Linked DNA regions of Homo sapiens: regions 1 and 3 are each linked to region 2. Evidence: fine-mapped expression QTL. A gene starts in region 2. Each other region holds a variant in brackets. All regions are shown on one strand. Distances are between the middles of the regions. Region 1 has its middle 39 kb from the start of JAG1. Region 2 holds the start of SNAP25 (synaptosome associated protein 25). Region 3 has its middle 63 kb from the start of MKKS.

The links. PIP is the estimated chance that this variant, and not a neighbour inherited with it, causes the effect.
Region 1: its variant is fine-mapped to the expression of SNAP25 in esophagus muscle (GTEx, PIP above 0.99).
Region 3: its variant is fine-mapped to the expression of SNAP25 in lung (GTEx, PIP 0.94).

What each region holds. Positions count from the first base shown.
Region 1 is chr20:10,709,644-10,716,444 of GRCh38, forward strand. No RefSeq gene overlaps it. Among named protein-coding and RNA genes, the nearest start is that of JAG1, 39 kb to the left of the region's middle. The variant C/T (reference allele first, on the strand shown) is at 3,588.
Region 2 is chr20:10,215,235-10,222,035 of GRCh38, forward strand. It overlaps SNAP25 (synaptosome associated protein 25), which reads left to right and starts at 3,596. Exons shown (of 8, transcript NM_130811.4): 1 at 3,596-3,743. It overlaps SNAP25-AS1 (SNAP25 antisense RNA 1), which reads right to left and starts at 4,272. Exons shown (of 5, transcript NR_040710.1): 1 at 4,003-4,272. LOC124904959 (a long non-coding RNA gene) reads left to right here. Exons shown (of 2, transcript XR_007067723.1): 2 at 1-85.
Region 3 is chr20:10,367,343-10,374,143 of GRCh38, forward strand. No RefSeq gene overlaps it. Among named protein-coding and RNA genes, the nearest start is that of MKKS, 63 kb to the right of the region's middle. The variant T/G (reference allele first, on the strand shown) is at 3,462.

The sequences.
Region 1 (6,801 bases), 490 kb after region 2:
CCAAAGAGGTTCTATTTTAAAGGAAGGATATCTACTCATACTTGGAAGATTGTAAGCCAATAGAAAAATATTTTTTTCCATAAAATATTGTCTTATAGAAACTTTTAAACAGACACTAAAGTACCCTTTACCAGATTCAATAATTAATTATAGTTAATCTTGCAGCAAAACTCCCTAACCTTCCTAAACAAATCTCTGACTTCATATATTTTATCGATTGCTATTACCTTCTAAAAAATGATAATACTTTAAAAAAGCATAAACTGCAACAAAATTATCATACCTTAAAAATATTAACAATAATTTCCTAACATCCACCAATATTCACGTGCGAAATTTCTCATCAGAAGAAGATGTAGAGGCTGGGCTTGGTGGCTCACACTGGTAATCCCAGCACTTTTGGGAGGCTGAGGTCAGCAGATCACTTGAGGTCAGGCATTTGAGACCAGCCTACCCAACAAGGTAAAACCCCTTTTCTACTAAAAATATAAAGATTAGCTGGGTGTGGTGGTGCATGCCTGTACTCCCAGCTACTTGGGAGGCTGAAGTGGGAGGATCACTTGAACCTGGGAGACAGAGGTTGCAGTGAGCCGAGATTGTGCCCCTGCTCTTTAGCCTGGAAAACAGAGTGAGACTCCATCTCAAAAAAAAAAAAAAAAAAGATAAAGAAAAAGATGTAAACACATTTGGCCTATTTTTTGGTATGCGATATTTTAGATAATTTTAGATCATAAATGCCCTTTTCCCAGGAAGTTGTTTCTTATCTTTGCTATACAAACTTATTCCAGATTCTATAAGGACATCAAAAATTAGAATAAGGGTACATTATATTTGTATGAAAAAAATATATAAAAAATTAAACAATATATCTTTAGTAAAAAGAAAAATCTTTCATGTGCACAGATGTTTTGGTTTTTATGTTAGCCTCTGTGAGACAGCTGGATATGTTGGAAATAAAGAAATAACATAACAGATACCTGTGCTTCATTCGTTTGACCTCAGCATAGTATTCTTTCTCCTTTACCCTTGATGTTCACTCTCTCTCTTTCAATATAATGAAGTCTATCAAAATATAAAATTTTATGGGCTTTGGAAATAGTCTGAGATTCAAATGCAGCAGGATTTGGTCATGGATTCAAAAATAGGGGCTTGAGACCTAGAGATAGCTATTTTAAATATATAAGGCCATTTTCCTAAAGTGTAGGAAGAAAACTGTGAGGAGAGCGTTCAGCTCCCTCATAAGCTAAGCTAGTTTCATACCTTCTGAATTGGTGTAGATCAAATACTGAAGTAAAATGGTAACTGAAATGAAACATAACAGAATGACCTCATTCAAGTCATGAGTATGGGGTGGGGGGTGTGTATGTATTTCTGTATGTATCTGTGTGTATGTATGTGTAAGTCTGTGTGTGTGTGTCTGTGTGTATGTGAGTCATCTGTGTGTATAGGTGTGTGTGGCCACTTGTGTGTATGTGTGTGCACCTGTGTGTATATGTGTGCATGAATGTGTGTATGTATGTATGAGTCTATATGTATTGTGTGCCTGTGTGTGTGAGTTAGTGTGCATCTATGTGTGTAGGTGTGTGTGTGTGTGAGTGTGTTCAAAGAAAAGCAAATAGTCTCCCTTGGATTGCCCCAATACCCTACTCATTTCTTTATAAGATAAAACCACAAAAACTAACAAATGCAGAATTCTGCTTTTCACTGAGAAACGCAAAGCCACTGGTGCCTGCTTTCTTTGTTTAAAAAAAAGAGTTAGAAAGGTCATCCAAGATAGGAATAAATGGAGGCAGAGGCAAATCAATGTTTAACTTGGAAATATTTTTCAGTTAATCATCTCTGACCGCTCACACTAAGAGGGCACTCCTAGAGTGTTGGCAAACGTGAACTGGAAGTCACTAAGCTACTAGTAAAACAGCCAGACGTCAGGATCCGTATAATCAGAAAGCCTGAGGCTCTGTAGGTTTAACCTAAAATGGCGAGAAAACCTTCTTCTGAAAATATGATCTAGAAATATTTTGACTTCTAGACTTTTGCTTCCAAGTATGAGGATTATGAAACCATAGGACTTTCCTTGCTTTAGGATTATAAAAACCTGGGACTCATACCTGGTAGGAAATTTGTTGAAAGGTGTGGGAAATCGTCTTGGAGTCTGTGATATAGCTTTCTCTCCCTGTTTTCTTTTCTGGCATATGTAACTTTATAAAATGCTACAGAATGTGACTTAGTAGCTTTGTGGCTCTTTTGTTGGCTTTTTTGGTCATTTTGTTATAAGGAGCAATCTTTAAGAAAGGTATGGAAAGCATATGGGGCCAGTGGGGTCAATATTTGCTCTAATGGGCAAATAGACTTTGTTAGTCTCATTTCCATTTTTTGTGTGTTTGTAGATGGCCAGCGATGAGGACAGGCTATGATTTTGACAGGCTTTGTTCATTCTTCTGTACGGGTGAAATAATTATCTGTCAAACAAAAGAAGTAACTCTTTTTGCCTTTGAATGTGACATACCCATTACATTCATGTAAAGTCGAGTTTGTAAAGAGATTCTTAGTCAAAATGTCACCCTTGACATAAGGCCATTGTGCTTGTGAACTGCTGAGCATATGGCATGCTTGCTATTCTGCGACCCACTGCTCCAAGAGTTCCCTGTGCCATGGACATTTCTTTACAAGAAGAGAGTAATGCAACTGGTGCCAAAACGATGAATATTCTAAGACCCCAAAGATGCATTTCTTTTATGAGACCTGATCTTTCTAACATTTGGATTCTAGACACATGAAACAGCTTGCAATAATTTAGCAGCAGTGAGATTCAGCAGAGCCATATTTGAATTATTGGAAAAGTCTGAATTTTGGTTTTGCATTTAGGGAGCCTTAAAAGATCTGATTTGTAAATGCTTTTGAAGAATTCACGTGGACTAGAAGGATTTTACAGGAAACATGAAAAAAAATGCCAGATTACATGTCTCCTTTATCATTCAAAAGAATAAAGTCTGTATCTGTTGTGTTCCTTTTGCTTTTTTTAAATTTTTTTTTATTTTTTGAGACAGTGTTTCCCTCTGTCACCCAGGCTGGAGTGCAATGGCACTATCTTGGCTCAATGCAACCTCCGCCTCCCAGGTTCAAGCGATTCTTCTGCCTCAGCTTCCCAAGTAGCTGGGATTACAGACACCCACCACTCCCAGCTAATTATTTTGTATTTTTAGTAGAGACAGAGTTTCACTATGTTCTTTTATGGTGAATGGACAGCAAGACCTTGATGGAACACACACAAAAAATTCTTCATTAAGTTTTGGCTTGGGTCTTTAATCTTGCAATGCTTTTAAATAACATTGCTTTTTGTTATTAACTATTACTTTATTTGGGGCCTGGATATCACTTCTCCTTGGCCATCACCTTGGTCCACCAGTGCTGGGAGAACTATAGGGCCATGATAAAACCCAGTGAAATCAAATGGTAAGAGTCTGCCCATGGGTTTATCTGCCACAATAACAGATGTATTTTCTTCCTATGAAGGAATTGTTTTCTCATTCAAACTTGCCTGAAGAGAGGACAGATGGTAGGTACTCTGCCTTATGTGTCGGTTAGCA[C/T]TGTTACATAACAAGCTACCCCAAACTCTGTGGCCTAAAACAGTAAGATTTATTGCCCTTGGTTTGGCTGGATACTTCTGACACTGGCCAGCTCACTGTGAGTCTCTAGCCAACTGTGGGACAGATAGGGAGCTCTGTTTTTCTAGGCTGGGCTCTTTCACACGTTCAATGGCTGGCTGACTGTAGGCTGATTTAAGGTCACTTTGAATGGGACAATTGGAATCTCTTCCATGCAGTCTCATCCTCTGGCAGGCTCTTCTGGGCTTGTTCCCATGGTGGTGACAAGGATCTGAGAGACAGAAGCATGCAAGACTTCTCAAGGCCCATACTTGGAGCTGATGTGCTGATACTTTCACTGCAAAGTTATAAGCAAATCACAAGACCAGCCCAGACTCGAAAGGGAGGGAAGTAGAATCTTCCTCTTGACGGGAGGATCCACAGAATCACATTGCAGAAAGTGTGCACACAAAGCAACCATTACTTCGCACTATGAATGCAATCAATATACTTCATCTTAGTTGGTAAGTAATCTTCAATAAATCTAGGGATCTCTGATCCAGGTGAAAGAGCTGTGATCCATGGCCAATTGCTCATACCATATTTCTCAAAATGTGGTATACAGGTATCTTCTGCATCAGATTCGCCTATGGGATTTGAGATGCCCTAGACCTACTGAATTATTATAGAATCTAATTCTGGGTCTCAGAAATCTGCTTGTTAATTAAACTTCTTCCCCAACTCCCACCCCATAACTCTAATATTCAGGTTTGAGAATTTTTGTATTAGACTCACCTACTCAACGCAATCATCAAAACATGTAGATTCAAGTAATAGAACATATTTTTCGTATCTGGAAAACTAACTCTGAAATGAATTACAAAAAATGTAGTTGGACTATTTCAGTGAATTGACTTAAACAAATTCTTACCTTCTCCCAAGTTATGATGAATATGTTATGTCATAGTGGCACCAGATTAACTGATAAACTCATATTGGAAAAACAAGTTTGATTGATTGCTTTTGCTTTAATAAATTTTCACTTGACTAGAAAAGAACACAGATATATAGAAGATATAAGTTTTGTCCAGTGCATCCTAGCAAGGAAGCAGGGGAGGAAAAAAGATGTCTTTACATCTTTAAAATCCTTATCTTAATCTTGAACTCAAAAGCCTTCCATAGGAGTCATCCAGATGCCCTGCAGGTAGGGACCAGCTCTATGTGTGTGTGTGTGTAGCTCTATCTTTTCATTAAAAGCTTCTTTTGAGTCACTAAAAACTTTAGATATTCTGGAAGATTCTTTTGGGGTCAAAAAATATTTTAATGAGAGCTAGAAGAAAAATCTGAAAGGGGCAAATGAGGTTTTAAACAGGCTAGTACTAAACTAGTTTCTTAGATTCTAGTCTTTACTGATACCAACTGAGCCTGCACAGAGGACCAGATTAGTCTTTTGAAAGCAGTATTGGGTGACTCTCATTCCTTGCTTGAAAACTGTTAATGATGCTTGTTGCCTCACTGGGTTTGCAAATTCAAAAGCATCAGGGGCTAGGGAAAGAAGAGTAAGTGAGTGAAACTGAATGGTTATGATTAATAGGGGGTGGTGAGGTTTCTGGTAAACTAAAAAATGCATGTCCTATTGAGAAGCAGTTAAGTTTAGATTTGCAAAAGAAAAACAAGACCTGCTCAATGGAACACATTTGTGGCTAAATTCAGCTCTTAGGCTACTTGTGTGTTACCTGTGGGCTGGCTCAAGTCCAGATTTATTAATCTGGCATTTGTGATTCTGTACAACCTAACATAGTGCTGTGAACAGAACAGGACTCTTTACTCTCATTTTTAATACAGAGAGGTGGAGGAGAAATATCATTAGGCTTTGGGAGTCTTGGGACTGAATTCTGATTCCACCACTCACTGCAGTAGTGTACAGCCTCAGATGACTCATTTTATCTGTCTCCGAGGCTTGTTTGTTTTTCATGTATACAATGTGGGCAGTAATGCCTGCCCTGCTTTGTTCATGTATTTCTTAGAAAAATAAAAGGATGCCGTTTAGAGCTACAGCACCAATACTGCAGCCACTGGCCATATGGGACTACTGAGAACTTGGCATGGGTCTAGTGTGACTGAGGAACTGTATTATTTAATTGTGTTTAATTTTGATTAACTTAAATTTAAGACCTGCTTGATTCAGGTCTTTGAAAACTTTTAAGAATGCCTGATACAACTTGAATTTGCCAATCTTCTTTTTAAACTGTAAATTTTAATCTAAATATAGATCAAATACTTCTGGTGAAAATTTACCATCTGAATTGAGATGTCTGTAAATGTAAAATACACACTGGATTTTGAAGATTTAATATAAAAAAGAATGTAAAACATATCAATAACTTTTTGTGTTGACTATATAACTTTTTATATTGATTATTTTAAATACATTGCATTAAATTAAGTATATTATTAAATTAATTTCACCTATTTCTTTTTACATTTTAAAAAATGTAGCCAATTGATTTGGACTCTCACCTCTGGAGACAGGACTAGAAATATAAAAATTACATAAGTGACTCATAATACGTTTCTACTGAACACTAGTGATCTATATGAAAGCTTTTAATGAACTATGATGTTATTATCAATAAATTCCACAAGTAGGTTGCAATATCTGTGAGCGTAAGGATCATCTACTATTATTTCTACTTTATTTCCCATCATATATTTAGGGCCTGGCCCAGTGCCTGGCACAAAGTAGGGGCTTGGTAAATATTCTGTGAACAAATACTTATTTAAATAAATTTAAATAGTTATTAAATGAATATGTATCCAAGCTGTGCCATTGTTTGCATTGCCTATTAAATGAGGAGGCTATAAAATGATATTTAAGTTGCTTCCAGCTCTGAAATACAATAAAATCTGACATGACAGGATACCATACAACAGGATGCAGTATTCTTTCACTCTATTTGAACATGTGTAGTCTTTTTTACTTGGCTGGGCTGCTGGGATTTTGCTATAGTCTCTTTACACAATACATGCCAATATAAGAAAGAGAAGCAAATCTTTCTTAGATGACAAAATCTAACTCATGCTGCCAGATTCTGATTAGTGATAAGGGAAGCAAGACTGGCCATATCAGCAACTATATGTTGGACCTTATCACTTTGTTTTTATTTTTGTTTTCAATCAAACTCCAGTTTTATTAGAATAATCCTCACTGCAGTAG
Region 2 (6,801 bases):
AAACATCCAGCCTGTGGCTGCTGGACACTCCCCTTCTTCCTTCTCACCATACTGTCTGTAATAAAGAATAAAGTGTTATTTAATATTCTGAGTGTACAGTCCTATTTTTTCTTAACCTGGCAAACCAGAAACAGCAACTAATATTCCTGGTTCTCTTTTTACCTTTCACAAGATCTATATCTACCTTAGAGGCTTCAGGGAACAAGAACAGCCTGGATAGTTTAAACCTAGAGTTAAACTACTCGAGGCATTTTAAGGTACCGCTACTTCACTATATATAAATGGGGTGGGGGGCTGGATTAAGGGCTAGAAGAATATATGAAGAGAAAGTGGCAAGCAAACCACTTGGAAAGCAAACCAAGGAATCAAAACAGTTGCTCTATCAAACTGAATATTCTTGCGCAGAACTGAATATTCTTTGCCCTCACAGTGTTTTGAAACATTGTCATAGGGTGCCAGGCATGTCCCAAAGGAGGACCCTGGAGAGAGGGCTTCTGAGCTGGGCTATCTCTAAACTGCTTCCAAGTTGACTTTGGAAAGATCACATGGGATTTTAGAAAAGTTATTATTATTATGACTTATAAAATTGTAGTTATTGAGTCAACTATGAATCTTGCACCTTACCTTGGAGATACAAGCTAAATACCTTGGACCTAGAGCTACTGCAAACCAGAATACTTTGGGGCATAATGTACCAAAAAAGCTTTCAGAGGCTTGAATTATCACAGTGTAAATATCCATCTAGCAGAGCAGGTAATTTTCTCGTTACTCATCCTAAGCATTAGATACTCTGTGTGTTAGTTCTTTGCAGAAATAACCCATAGCAGCTGAACCATTTTGGAACAAATTTTCCATCACCTTCCTTCCCTGTGTGGTTCAGGCCTTTGCAAACCCTGAGTATCATGAATCTGCTGGTTCTCTACTGGCAAAGATGATGACGTTTTCTTGTTTGTTTTTGTTTTGCTTTAATCATGCCGTGAGAAAATCCTAAGGGAAAAAAATCTCATTATCCTATTCAAAATACATTTAGGGTTATCTGGTCATCCCTAGCAGATTTTTATGTACCCAATGTTTATGTATCTCAAATTACACTCTGTTACCTTTCCCAGAGCAAGATGAAGAACCTCTAAGAACCTCTCAAACAGCATCATTTTCACAACAAGCACTAGCAATGGAAAACATTGTCACCACCACCAGCTAATCTTGTAGGGTCCATGGTATTTTCTGTAATGCCTTGAAACAGTCTGCCTCTCTCTTCTTGTCTGTCATTTTTATAGATGTCAGTGTGGGGCATCAGCAGTTGAAAACTCAGAATACCAAGCCAGTCCTTCCCTGTGACTGCTACATAGCTTTTGCCTGCAGGATAAGCCTCCATCACTGACGTAGTTGCTTTTTAACTTCTTTTTTTTTTTTAACTTGGAAAATCCCCCACCTCCTCCATTCCTTCACAAAACTTTCTGCCTGAATGATTTCTAGTCTGAGGGCCATACACACATTTTTTTTTCTCCCTCTGCAGGTTTTTTTTTCTCTTCAAACTTCCGCATGCTGCCTTTTTTTAAAGTGTCACACTTTGGAAAAAATTCTGACTACAAAGGATTTTGCAGTACATTGCATTCAAACCCCTTTCCCCCTATTCCAACTTGCTTTATAATGAAAGTAAGAGCCATACTCAAGAGACTTTTATTGGCAATTAAGTATCTAAGGACTTTGCAGATTTTCTTCTTTATTGTATGGCAATCTTAAATGTTTAATGAATATTTAAGTAAACAAATTTCAGCAACATGCCTTTTTTAGGAATTTGGCTTTAATTAACATCCAAACACTGTTAATTATTATGGCAAAAACATCAATACGTCAAAAAAAAGCCTTCAGGCCAGGGAATCTTTAAGAAACAATTATGTCTACTAATTTCGATTAAAGGTATCCTTTATTAAATTCTTAACAACCCGTCTCTTTCTAAACGCAGCGCCTTCACAACTCTTCTTCCCTTCCCCCTACCCCGCTTCCCTCCCTCCGCAATGGAGCGCAATCAAAGGCCGTATTATTGCCTAAGCTTGGCTCTCAGGCCAGCTAGGGATGTGTGTGTGTGTGTGTGTGTGTGTGTGTGTGTGTGTGTGGTGGGGCGGGGGTGGGGGGCGAGGGTGCAAGGGGAGAGGTTGTACGCCGCTTTTCCGAACCCAGCTCTAAATGGTTTCTCCTAAGCGAGACAAGGATTTTCCATAGCCTAAAAGAGGCCATCAAGTTTTAACATTGCGAGGCACGACTTCTAATCGCATCCTTCCCGGAAAAGTACAAACAGTTCCTCAGACGAGGTCCCCCACCTCCCACGCGCTCCCCAGCCCTCCCTCCCTGCGGAGAGCCCCGCGACAGCCTCCCCAACACCTGTGAATCATCCGGGAGGCTGCCACCGCCGAGCGATCCGCGCACCACCCCCTTCCCGGGCCCGGGCACGGCCAGGGAGGACAGTTAGGGTTGTTGCTTTATAATTATCACTTTTAATCTCTAATACGACCAGCACAAGTAGCCTTTGTCTCCCCGCCCTGATTTGAGCATCCGAGGGCCCCCCGAGGCAGCCTGCACGGGTACCCCGGGGTTTGCGCACTGAGTGAACCCCCAGATTCGGCCGTGTCCCAGCCGTCCTTGCTCTGAATCCCCCACCTCCTCCCGGCCGTTTGGACGGTTCCCTCGGGGCGTCTGTGCCTCCGTGGGGTACCCCTAAGACACCCAGCATGAAACCCCAGCACCGACTGCAAATTCCACCGAAAGCAGAGTCATCCGTTTTTGCCCTCGGCAAACAACTCAACTTCAAGCCTCGAGTCCTTGCAAACCCACGCTGGCTGGGCTAACTCCGCTTCCCTTCTCCTTCCCCCGACTCCTGCAACAGCTCAGAGAGCCTGGCTCTGACGTAGTTCAAAATAACGTGCGCCAGCCTCGCTGCCCGGCTGACCACAGCAACGAGAGCCACAAGCCCTCGACGCTGCTTCGATAACATGAAGCAATCACTCATAAAAATAGCAACCCACGTAGCCTGGCCATATATGGAGCTGGCGAGGGTGGACGGGGATGCCCCTACGGACCCTCTTCGGAGAAAACAAATCGCCGCTGAAATTTCCCCCACCCCTCCCATCACTACCTTTTACCCCTCCTCTGCCTTCCCCTCTCCTTAGATGACTCAACCACAGATTCCACTGAAAGGGGGTGGGGGTGGGGGTGGGGGGGAATATATACACATACACACAAATTATACATATATTATACATGTATTATAAAATATACACACACATACATATATACATACACACACATATACACATATGTACACACACACGCACACACACCAAAGAACATCAGGAATGCAGTTGCGGGATGAACGCGTTTGCCCAAGACCGAGTGTTAAAATGGAGTCATAAGAGTCGCCCCGTGCGGGTGTTTATAGAAGGTGAAAACACGCAGGTTTGCAGGCCAGCGCACTGGGAACCGAGTCAAGCGCGCCGCAGCCCGGGCCCCGCCCCCGCCCCCGCCGTGCCCCGCCCCCACTTCCTCCCGCCCCTCGCTGGGCGGCTATTAAAAGCTGCTGACGTCAAAACGGACGGCCATCTTTGATGAGGGCAGAGCTCACGTTGCATTGAAGACGAAACCTCGGGGAGGTCAGGCGCTGTCTTTCCTTCCCTCCCTGCTCGGCGGCTCCACCACAGTTGCAACCTGCAGAGGCCCGGAGAACACAACCCTCCCGAGAAGCCCAGGTAAGAACCCCCCTCCCCAGGTCGTGGCTCTGGCTCGGGATGGCTGCATACCCAGAAGGGACAGCAGCTGGGCAGTCCGAGTGGGCTTGGGTAAATACAAGTATTGGTGCACTTAGGGTGCGGTATTCCGTGTGTGCACGTCTGGTGGGGGCTTTATAAAGTGTTTTCGAGGTGAGCTGCTGGGGAAAAGGGAAACGGGAGCCCTGCAAATGGAGCGACGGGGAGGAAGAGCGAGGGTACGTACCGAATAATAACTTACTCTTTTGAAACAGTAGTGGGACCCCCTCTTTCTTCCATTTTGCGATGCAGTTTTCAGAGATATTTAGGCTGTTGAGTTTTCCTCCCCTGTCGTTCTAACCCTATTATTATGACTGTTGTCGTTAGGGTGCTATTATCCAGGGAAGAATTAAGGGGGAGACAGGGTGTGGGTGCTGGGGAGGCGAAAGGAGAAAGGGGGAGTTCCCGCCCCGGGCAAGCTGAGCTGCTGCAGCGACAGCAGCCTCCATGCCCCGCGGACTTGATTTATGCCGCCTGCTCCACGTCAACTGCAGGCTGGCGGGAGGCGGGCGGGTCGTGCCGGGTGGGAGGGCTCTGCGGAGGGCTGGCGCGGGTGGGCTGGCTTCGGGGACTGCGGCGGCCCGCGCTCAGCACCCTGGATAGCAACACCGAGGGCTCGCGCGGGCGCCCTCGACCTTTCAGCACCGGGGACAGCGGTCCGGCCGCAGCGCCTCATCTGCCTGCGGCAGAAATGCCTGGCCGGGGCTGGATGTGCCAGGGCTGGAGACCAAATTGTCTCCCTGAGACCCCGGTCTTACGGAGACCCTTAATAGAGGAGTCATAGTAGCTTAAAAGAAAACAAGAAAGAAATAAATCTTCCTCACAGAGACTCCTTTGCAGACAATTTCCTGTTCCCCTCCTCACCTCCTGCATAGCTTCAACAAAATAGTCTACTTGTGGAAATCTTCTGTGTTGCCCTCTGACCCTTATTTTACGTAGAAAATAAATACATTTTTTAAAAAATATGGATTTATCCTCCAGCAGGGTATCAAGGTTTTTGTTTGGTTTTGTTTTTTAACACAGAGTAGATCTGTCTACAGATCTTGGGTGAGCATAAGTACTGTATATATGAAGAAGCCAATGCTATCTGTTTATAGGGATGATACATCTCTCTCTATGTTTCCATTTGATAAAAATGTGAGATTAGCTGAACTAAGCAGAATCAACTTTAAGAATGAATCACTCTTCCTTTTCCTTCTTCCCCCATCCTTGCAATCAGGCATGAATACAAGCATTCATCCACAAAAACACATATCTGAGAAATTTTACTGGTCCTGTACTGAATAGATTTAACCTCTTTGGCCACGGTTTCAGAGTTACTGGAAGTATTTGCTATCAGCACTGGTTATCGCAGGCTGATAGCTTTAGATTTTGACAATATTAAGACTGGCCTTCCTCAGGAGAATCCAAGTGTGTCCTTCAGGGTAATGCAGGTAAAGAACCATGGTGTTAAACTAGAACTTAACTCTGACCTAAAGGTCTACTGCAATTTCTCTTATGGCACTGCGGGATTTTGCTGAGGTGGTAATAACTACTTTAACCATTTTCTACTCTGAGGCTTGGAGCATCTGAGAGAGCAAAAGTCATCAGGGGTATTTCTCTCTGTTTGATGTAGATAAAACTGGCATAAAAATGACCAGAGTCAAAATTATGCCATTTGAGTCATTAGCAAAAAAGAGTAACAGCGTCATATGTAATAATCTATACAATGCATTAAAGAAACGCTATCATGATCCCCTTAAAAGACCCCAAATGAGAACTTGGATTGTGTTTAGATAGTCATACCTCCTATCATCTGTATGCTACAGACACTAAAATTCCCTGTCCATATACAGAAGGTAATTTCATTCGCTGCTATTTAATTATTTCCTAGTGTTTTTTCTTTTTATAGATGACCATGTGTTTCCATGTATGTATATGTTGATCTGTTATTTTGCATGGATGTAAAATTATTTGGGTGGACATTTATATATGAGTATGTAAACGTATAAAAGAAGTTTATAACTTTGCAATCTGCAGACAAAAATAAACAACTGTGTTTTAGTAGTGGAGGAGAGAAAATATGGGCAGGAATCTTTAAAAATGCTTTAACTTCATGCTGCATGTCCAGACAGCTGTCTGCGTAGTTGCGTCAAATGAAAAGCCTAATGCTGCCGGAATTACGTGCTTGGACATTAGTAATTACTGCTGGGTTTGTTTGCTAGTGGAAGACTGGGGAGGAGCGGGGGAAGTAGAGGACCGCAGTGAAGATGGCAAAGGGCACAGAGCTGAGAGGAAGAAGCAATGTGCACAATTAGAAAGCTAATTTTAGAATAGCTTACTGAGAAATTTAAAAAATATATCATTGAACCATGAATTTAACATTTATATCATTGACAAGCTTCCAGGGAAAAAAAATCGAGAAATTTCCCATTTTAAGTTAGAATTTTTAAAATCCAGGGCAATGCGGTGAGAAGAGGCAGGAGCAGATGGACATAGGATGAGCCAGGAGTCATTCACACAGACCCTCTGATGCCTGTTTGTTCATCGGCATTTACTGCATTACCACCTCAGTGTTCAAATTACAGAACAATTTACAATCCTCTTAACCTCTTCATGGCAAAATCTCCCAAGAATTCACAATTTTATTTTTACTTTGTTAAACACGCACAACCACACATGCACAAACACAATGCAAACTACCCGTTAATTAGCTTGTCTAAAGATATTCCCAAGCTCTAAATGTTAACCCTTGAGTGAGGGTTATCAGCTGAAAGACATGTTTCTGCCAGTGACACCTAGAAGCTGCGTAAGCAGTCAGCCTTCAGCATAACACGTAGGTTTTGACGATTAGTAGAAACGAGAAAAATAATCTGAGAAAGAGGTTGAGAGAGGAGACATGAAGGAGAAAAATAGAAAATATGCTTTTTAGATAATTCACTATGAATAAACAATGTTTCTCACATTATGGGACTGCTTTACAATTCTATAAAAGAAGGAAAAATCTGTGTTTTAAGCCTCA
Region 3 (6,801 bases), 150 kb after region 2:
AAATCAGTCTCATTTTTGTTGCAAGGTCTCCTGGTTGGGAATCTGAGCCTGGCCCCCGAAGAGCAAGAATTTTCATCTACATGCAGCTTGCTTGTGGAAAGAAATCTGTTAAATGAGCTTTTTCAGTGTCTACCACTGCTGTTGTTCATTTGTTTCCCTTCAGCTTTTCCCAGTTGGTGCTCATTCCCTTTAATTTTTTACACCAACTTGTACCTTGTTCTTGGAATCCACACTCTCTTATCCATACTGTCCAAATAGAAAAAGCTGTGAAAACTAAGTTTTTTCTTAAACTGAATGGAAAACCGGAACTCACATGAGGCTGTTTATAATGTCAGTTTATCTCACTTACTGTGAATTTTTGTGTTTTATTGCAGAGACTTAAATGTGTTTATTACAGGATGCTGCTTTAGATCCCCCTGGAGATGGAATGCAATATGCAATATATGCACTGTATTATCTTTCTACAATCCAAAAATTTCAAATTCCAAAGCACATCTGGGATTGCAGAGCTGTAATCAAGAATTTTCTTCTATAATGGAGATAAACTTGTTCAGCTGCTGGAGGGATTGGGGTTAAATTTAAGCAATAGTCTTATGGCCATAAGAGTGGTTAAACACAAATAATTTCTCCCAAAGACTGTGTTAGGTTGAGAGATCAAAATCAATCAATATTTAACCTAGAGTTCAAACTTAAAAGTCAATTTCTAGCTGTCTACAGGACTCTGACCCTCACACATCAGATCTTTTTCCTAGTGGTAAAGTAAGGGGGTGGATGGGGAATGCAACTCAACACACTGGGGAGAGGCGTCATCAGGTCAGAAAGAAGAGAAAATAAAATATTAGTCTTTTGGCAAATTTTAGGTTTTTTGTTTTTTTTTTAGCCGGATTTTCCTCTCGTTACCCAGGCTGGAGTGCAATGGCACAATCTCGGCTCACCGCAAACTCCGCCTCCTGGGCTCAAATGATTCTCCTGCCTCAGCCTCCCAAGTAGCTGGTATTACAGACGTGCGCCACCACACCCAGCTAATTTTGTATTTTTAGTAGAGACGGGGTTTCTCCATGTTTGTCAGGCTGGTCTCAAACTCCCAGCCTCAGGTAATCTGCCCACCTCAGCCTCCCAAAGTGCTGAGATTACAGGCGTGAGCCACCATGCCCAGCCTTGGCAAACTTGATGTGTCTGAAGCAGGTGATAAGAACTTAGTTCCAGGAATGGGTTTGGTGTGGATTTCATAAAAGACTGGGTTTTTCAGAGGGATGGTACCCATTTACCTCCTACTTAGAAGGCTCCTCATCAGCATCAGCTGGTTAGAGACAGCGAATAAAACACAACTTTCAGTTACAGTATTTTCTAGGGCAGCGTGTCTCAGACTTACCGGTACACACAAATCACCAGGGCATCTTGTTAAAATGCAGATTCCAGTTCCTTAGGTTGGGTTGGGATTGAGATCCAGCATTTCTAACCAGCTGCCAGGTCCTTCTGTTGCAAGGTCAGGGCTTTTTAAACTTCAACTTGCGTATCCTGCAGGGCTAGTTAAACACAGCCCCACCCTCAGAGGGTCTGATTTTGAAAGCCTGGAGTGGGCCTGAGAGCCTGTGAATTCCTCCCAAGTAATGCGGCTGATGCAGGACCACATTTTCAGTGTTTTCAAGAAAAAATTAAATAAAACAAGCATGCCATTCTTTCAGGAGTATTATTTATTTTTATTTTTATTTATATATAATTATTGTACATATTTCAGATCTATCATTAATATCTGAATATTCATTTTTGAATAGAGGTAAGCATCTAGATCATTTAGATATAACCTGGTGTGAAAAATCTCCTTGTAACCTTTATATGTTAAAATGCTATCAGTAAGTTGGAGTATAAATATATATTCATTATTGTAGGAGTTTAAAGTGCTACTATAATTAGTGATTGTGAAAGCTGAGGATTTTACCTACAAAATCAATAATTTAAAGCTTTCAAGTAGTTAAGTCAAGCAAGATCAGCAGCTAATAGAAATCTAGTAAAAGAGAATGTCTTGGCCAGGTGTGGTGGCATGCACCTGTAGCCCCAGCTACTCAGAAGGCTGAAGCAGGAGGATTACGTGAGCCCAGGAGTTCCAGGTTGCACTGAGCTGTGATGGTGCCACTGCACTCCAGCCCGGGCAATGGGGCAAGACCCTGTCTCTACAAAATAAAGTTACAAAGAGAGAATGCCTCTACTAGATAACTTTAGGAACACTCCATCCTTTTTGAACCAACAAATGTTTACACAATTTTAAATAAGAATGGAAGGCAGAATAAAAGGATTATATGTAAAACATATTTGAAATCTTTGCAGAATTATTAGATTATTATTCATGACATTAAAATAACCTTTAAAAACTGTATTTTTATTTCATGATTAAATTCCATTCCACCTATGAGTTTTAAAAGAGAACAGTCTACCCCGGAAGTTCCTTCTAAGTTGGTGATAGTTGGCTTCAGTCTGATATTTATTTAAACACTAGGCCAGTTAGCATTCAACCGAAATGAGTTTTGGCACACTTCCAGCACGAATCTTAAGAAATGAATCAGCGGAGCTCCCAAGATCATGGGTCAGACAATGCCCTTCCACCCCACTGGAGAAGCCCCAACCTCCCTGCCCAGCTCCCCTGCTTGGCACTCTTGTGGAATCTTGTGGAAAGTTAAACCAGTCTGTTGATTTCCTTTCTTGTGAAAGTTGGGTGAGGTTAGGGTTGCCAGATTAAATACAGGATGTTCAGTTAAATTTGAATTTCAGATTAACAATACATTATTTTTCAGCGTCTGTTCCAAATATACGGGACAAAAGAAGGCTTCCCCTCCGTGTGCCTTCCAAAGGTTTGCTGAAAATTAGCTGGCAATAGGCAGATTAGTAGGAGAATAAGACATACAAACTTATTTAACATGCATAAGCACAGGGGAATTCTGGAGGATGATTACTCAAATAACCCAGTGAGGTCCAGATGCATATATGCCCGTCTTCATAGGGGAAGAGGAGATGGGGATATAGGAGTGAATAATTTTTAGTGCGGAATGAATGGACCTGGGTGGCAGGCAGTATCTTGTAAATGATTCTCTTTGGAAATTGATTGGGACCTGAGAACAAACAATGGTTTGGGACAAAGTTTGCCTGGGCTCTAGACATGGTGTTTAATGTTCAGTCTCTTTCTCTGTGATATGAGTTTATCTCTTCTCTGGTTGATGAATTTCAGGGAAGAAATCAAAGGCAATTGTGCAATTTTTTGGTATGTCTGGTTTCTAGGCAGATAAGGGAATTTCAGAGAATAACCTCATCTTGTGCTTTGTGAGAAGTGTTGAGAGACAGGATCGGGGTGGTTGGTGAGATCAGAGAGATATTGAGGCTGCTTCCTTTGTTCTGCACGCCAAAGAGCCATATTTAGGGGTGTTGTTTTATGAACCCCAACATATCCAACATGTGGAACATTCCTGTAT[T/G]TTTATTTGCTATATTTGGCAACATTAGGCGAGGTACCAGCTGCAGGAAAATTATCATAAGATATTGTCTCTGAAACTCAACATTTCTTCCCTTGTAACATCAAATGGGAGACATGAAGAGGAGAATGATAGTTTCTTTAAATTTATAAGGTATGGTATAAAAGCAATTTGCCAAGGGCTCCATTTTTTAGTGTAAATTTCATCTAGTCTTTAAAACACTGGTTAAAAACTGAGGAAATCTTAGTTCCAGTCCCACTTCCACCATAGACTGGGTTTGACACGTTGAGATAATTATTGATCTTGTTTCATGGCTCTAAGACACCAATGCTTATCAAATAAACCATTTAAAAAATGCCACCAGGAGAGAAAAAATGCTGCCAATTAAACTATGACACAATACTAAAACACCATTGATGTGTGAAGATACATCTTTATTTCAGAGATATTAAAATGTGAGGGAAAAAATGAGCATCTTGGAATTCACAAAGCATGATATTTTGACTTGCTTCACTTATATAATGAAGATAATTATCATTTTCCCTACCAAATACATATAAAGATTAGACCAAGAAATTAATAATCAGCTTTTGTTTCACAGTCTAGTTTTGAATTGCATGACAGGGAACTTTAGTTTCCAATATAGAAAGTTTTCCAGTGACTGAACCTGTAGAAGTAGCATAAAGAAAAGTGAAAATGTCTTATAGTTTGTTTGAAAGATTTTTTTCAGTTGTAGGTCAAAATTATCTGAGTCTTTTGATCCACTAGTGTAGAATCATCTTTATGGTTAGAGACAAATGTCATTTAAACAGGAAGCAGCTGAATGCAAGAGTTTGTGTCATCTGCCTGCTCATCTATCCTTTGATCTGTTGATCCATTGACCCACTGATCCATCTACCCATCCCTTATTCATTCCTACCTCCATCTTCTATTTATCCATCCATCCATTTATTCATTGAATAATCCACCCAACATTTATTAAATTTCTATTCCATGCCAGATAGATAAAATTTGAGAACACAGAGATTAAATAGTTCTTGCATTCAAGGAGGTGCCAATTTTTTAAAAAAGTACTGAAATCCTCTACTTACTAAGAGGTCAGATCTTTTTGCATCCAAAAATCTCAGGAAAATAGCTTACACCTTCTCTTATGTGGACTACTCCCTTTCTCTGGTCAGGACTCAGAACACAGTATTACAAAGTATTGTGATACTTTTTGGAACACTGAGTATTTTTGAGCTGAAGGAGATAGGAAGGACCTCAGAAGCTAGAAGGTTTCCCTGATCTTCTCCCCCCATCCTGTCTCTCACCCCTTTTTCTTCCCCAAAGCAAGCCATAAGACCTTATGACCTACCTTTCCTGAAAGTAGATCATAATACTCTCATATGACAGATGTCCTGGGGAAAGGAATGCTACACAGAGAGACCAAGAAGAAGCTGAACAAAGAGACTTTGCTGAATTTCCTCCTCAGTTTATTACTAGATCATGCACTTTTTGTCCAGTCATGTTTCTCCTCAGCTATCCACTTATTTCATCAGACTTAGCCTAAAAATACAGTTTTCCCTGCATCTTTCGGTCTTCATTTCTGAAGATTCCATGTCATATAAAACTTTGATTAAATACATTTGTTACATTTTTCTCTTGTTAATCTGTCTTTTGTTATAGACGTGTCAGCTATGACCCCTGCAATGGGTGAGGAAAAGGTATTAACTTCTTTTTTTCTTTTTCTTTATTATTATTATACTTTAAGTTTTAGGGTACATGTGCACAATGTGCAGGTTAGTTACGTATGTATACATGTGCCATGCTGGTGTGCTGCACCCATTAACTCGTCATTTAGCATTAGGTACATCTCCTAATGCTCTCCCTCCCCCCCTCCTCCCCCCGACAACAGTCCCCAGAGTGTGAAGTTCCCCTTCCTGTGTCCATGTGTTCTCATTGTTCAATTCCCATCTATGAGTGAGAACATGCGGTGTTTGGTTTTTTGTCCTTGCGATAGTTTACTGAGAATGATGATTTCCAATTTCATCCATGTCCATACAAAGGACATGAACTCATCATTTTTTATGGCTGCATAGTATTCCATGGTGTATATGTGCCACATTTTCTTAATCCAGTCTATCATTGTTGGACATTTGGGTTGGTTCCAAGTCTTTGCTATTGTGAATAGTGCCGCAATAAACATATGTGTGCATGTGTCTTTATAGCAGCATGATTTATAGTCCTTTGGGTATATACCCAGTAATGGGATGGCTGGGTCAAGCGGTATTTCTAGTTCTAGATTCCTGAGGAATCGCCACACTGACTTCCACAATGGTTGAACTAGTTTACAGTCCCACCAACAGTGTACAAGTGTTCCTATTTCTCCACATCTTCTCCAGCACCTGTTGTTTACTGACTTTTTAATGATTGCCATTCTAACTGGTGTGAGATGGTATCTCATTGTGGTTTTGATTTGCATTTCTCAAAAGGTATTAACTTTCTTACCCGTACACGTCTCATTGACTATTCAAAGCCCACTCATTTCTTCAAAAGTCCGCTCAAATCCTCCCACTCCATGAAGTCTTGCCTTATGAATCTCCCCCTTTTCCAAATTCCCAAATTGCTTAAAGTATTTTATTTGGCTCCTAATTGGGCATTGAATGAGTAAAATATATAGTATGTTAGATAGTAATACTAGCTAAGGAGAAAAATCAAGCAGGAAAGAATACGATGAATATCCAGAAAGGAGGAGGTTTGAAGTTTTAAATAAGGTGATCTGTGAAAGTCTTACTAAAAAGCAGAATTTTGAGTAGTAATCTGAGTTAAGCAAGGGGTGAACCATGTGGGTATAAGGGAGTGAAATTCCAAGCAAAGAGAACAGCTAGTACAATAGCCCTGAGGTGGGAGTGTATCTGATATGCTGGAGGAACAGGAAGTAGGCCATTGTGATTGTAATGCAGTGAATAAAAAGATGAAGTTGGACACTTTGGGAGGCCGAGGCTGGTGGATCACGAGGTTGGGAGATCAAGACCACCCTGGCTAAAAAGGTGAAACCCCATCTCTACTAAAAATACAAACAATTAGCTGGACGTGGTGGCGGGTGCCTGTAGTCCCAGCTACTTGGGAGGCTGAGGCAGGAGAATGGCATGAACCCGGGAGGCAGAGCTTACAATGAGCCAAGATTATGCCACTACACTCCAACCTGGGTGACAGAGCGAGACTTTGTCTCAAAAAAAAAAAAAAGATGAAGTTGGAATACGAAATCAGAGAGGTAAGGGAACTAGGCCTTGTAAGGTCTGTAAGTTTTACTAACAACCTTGCATTTTACTCTGAATGGGATAGAGTGCCATTGGAGGGTTTG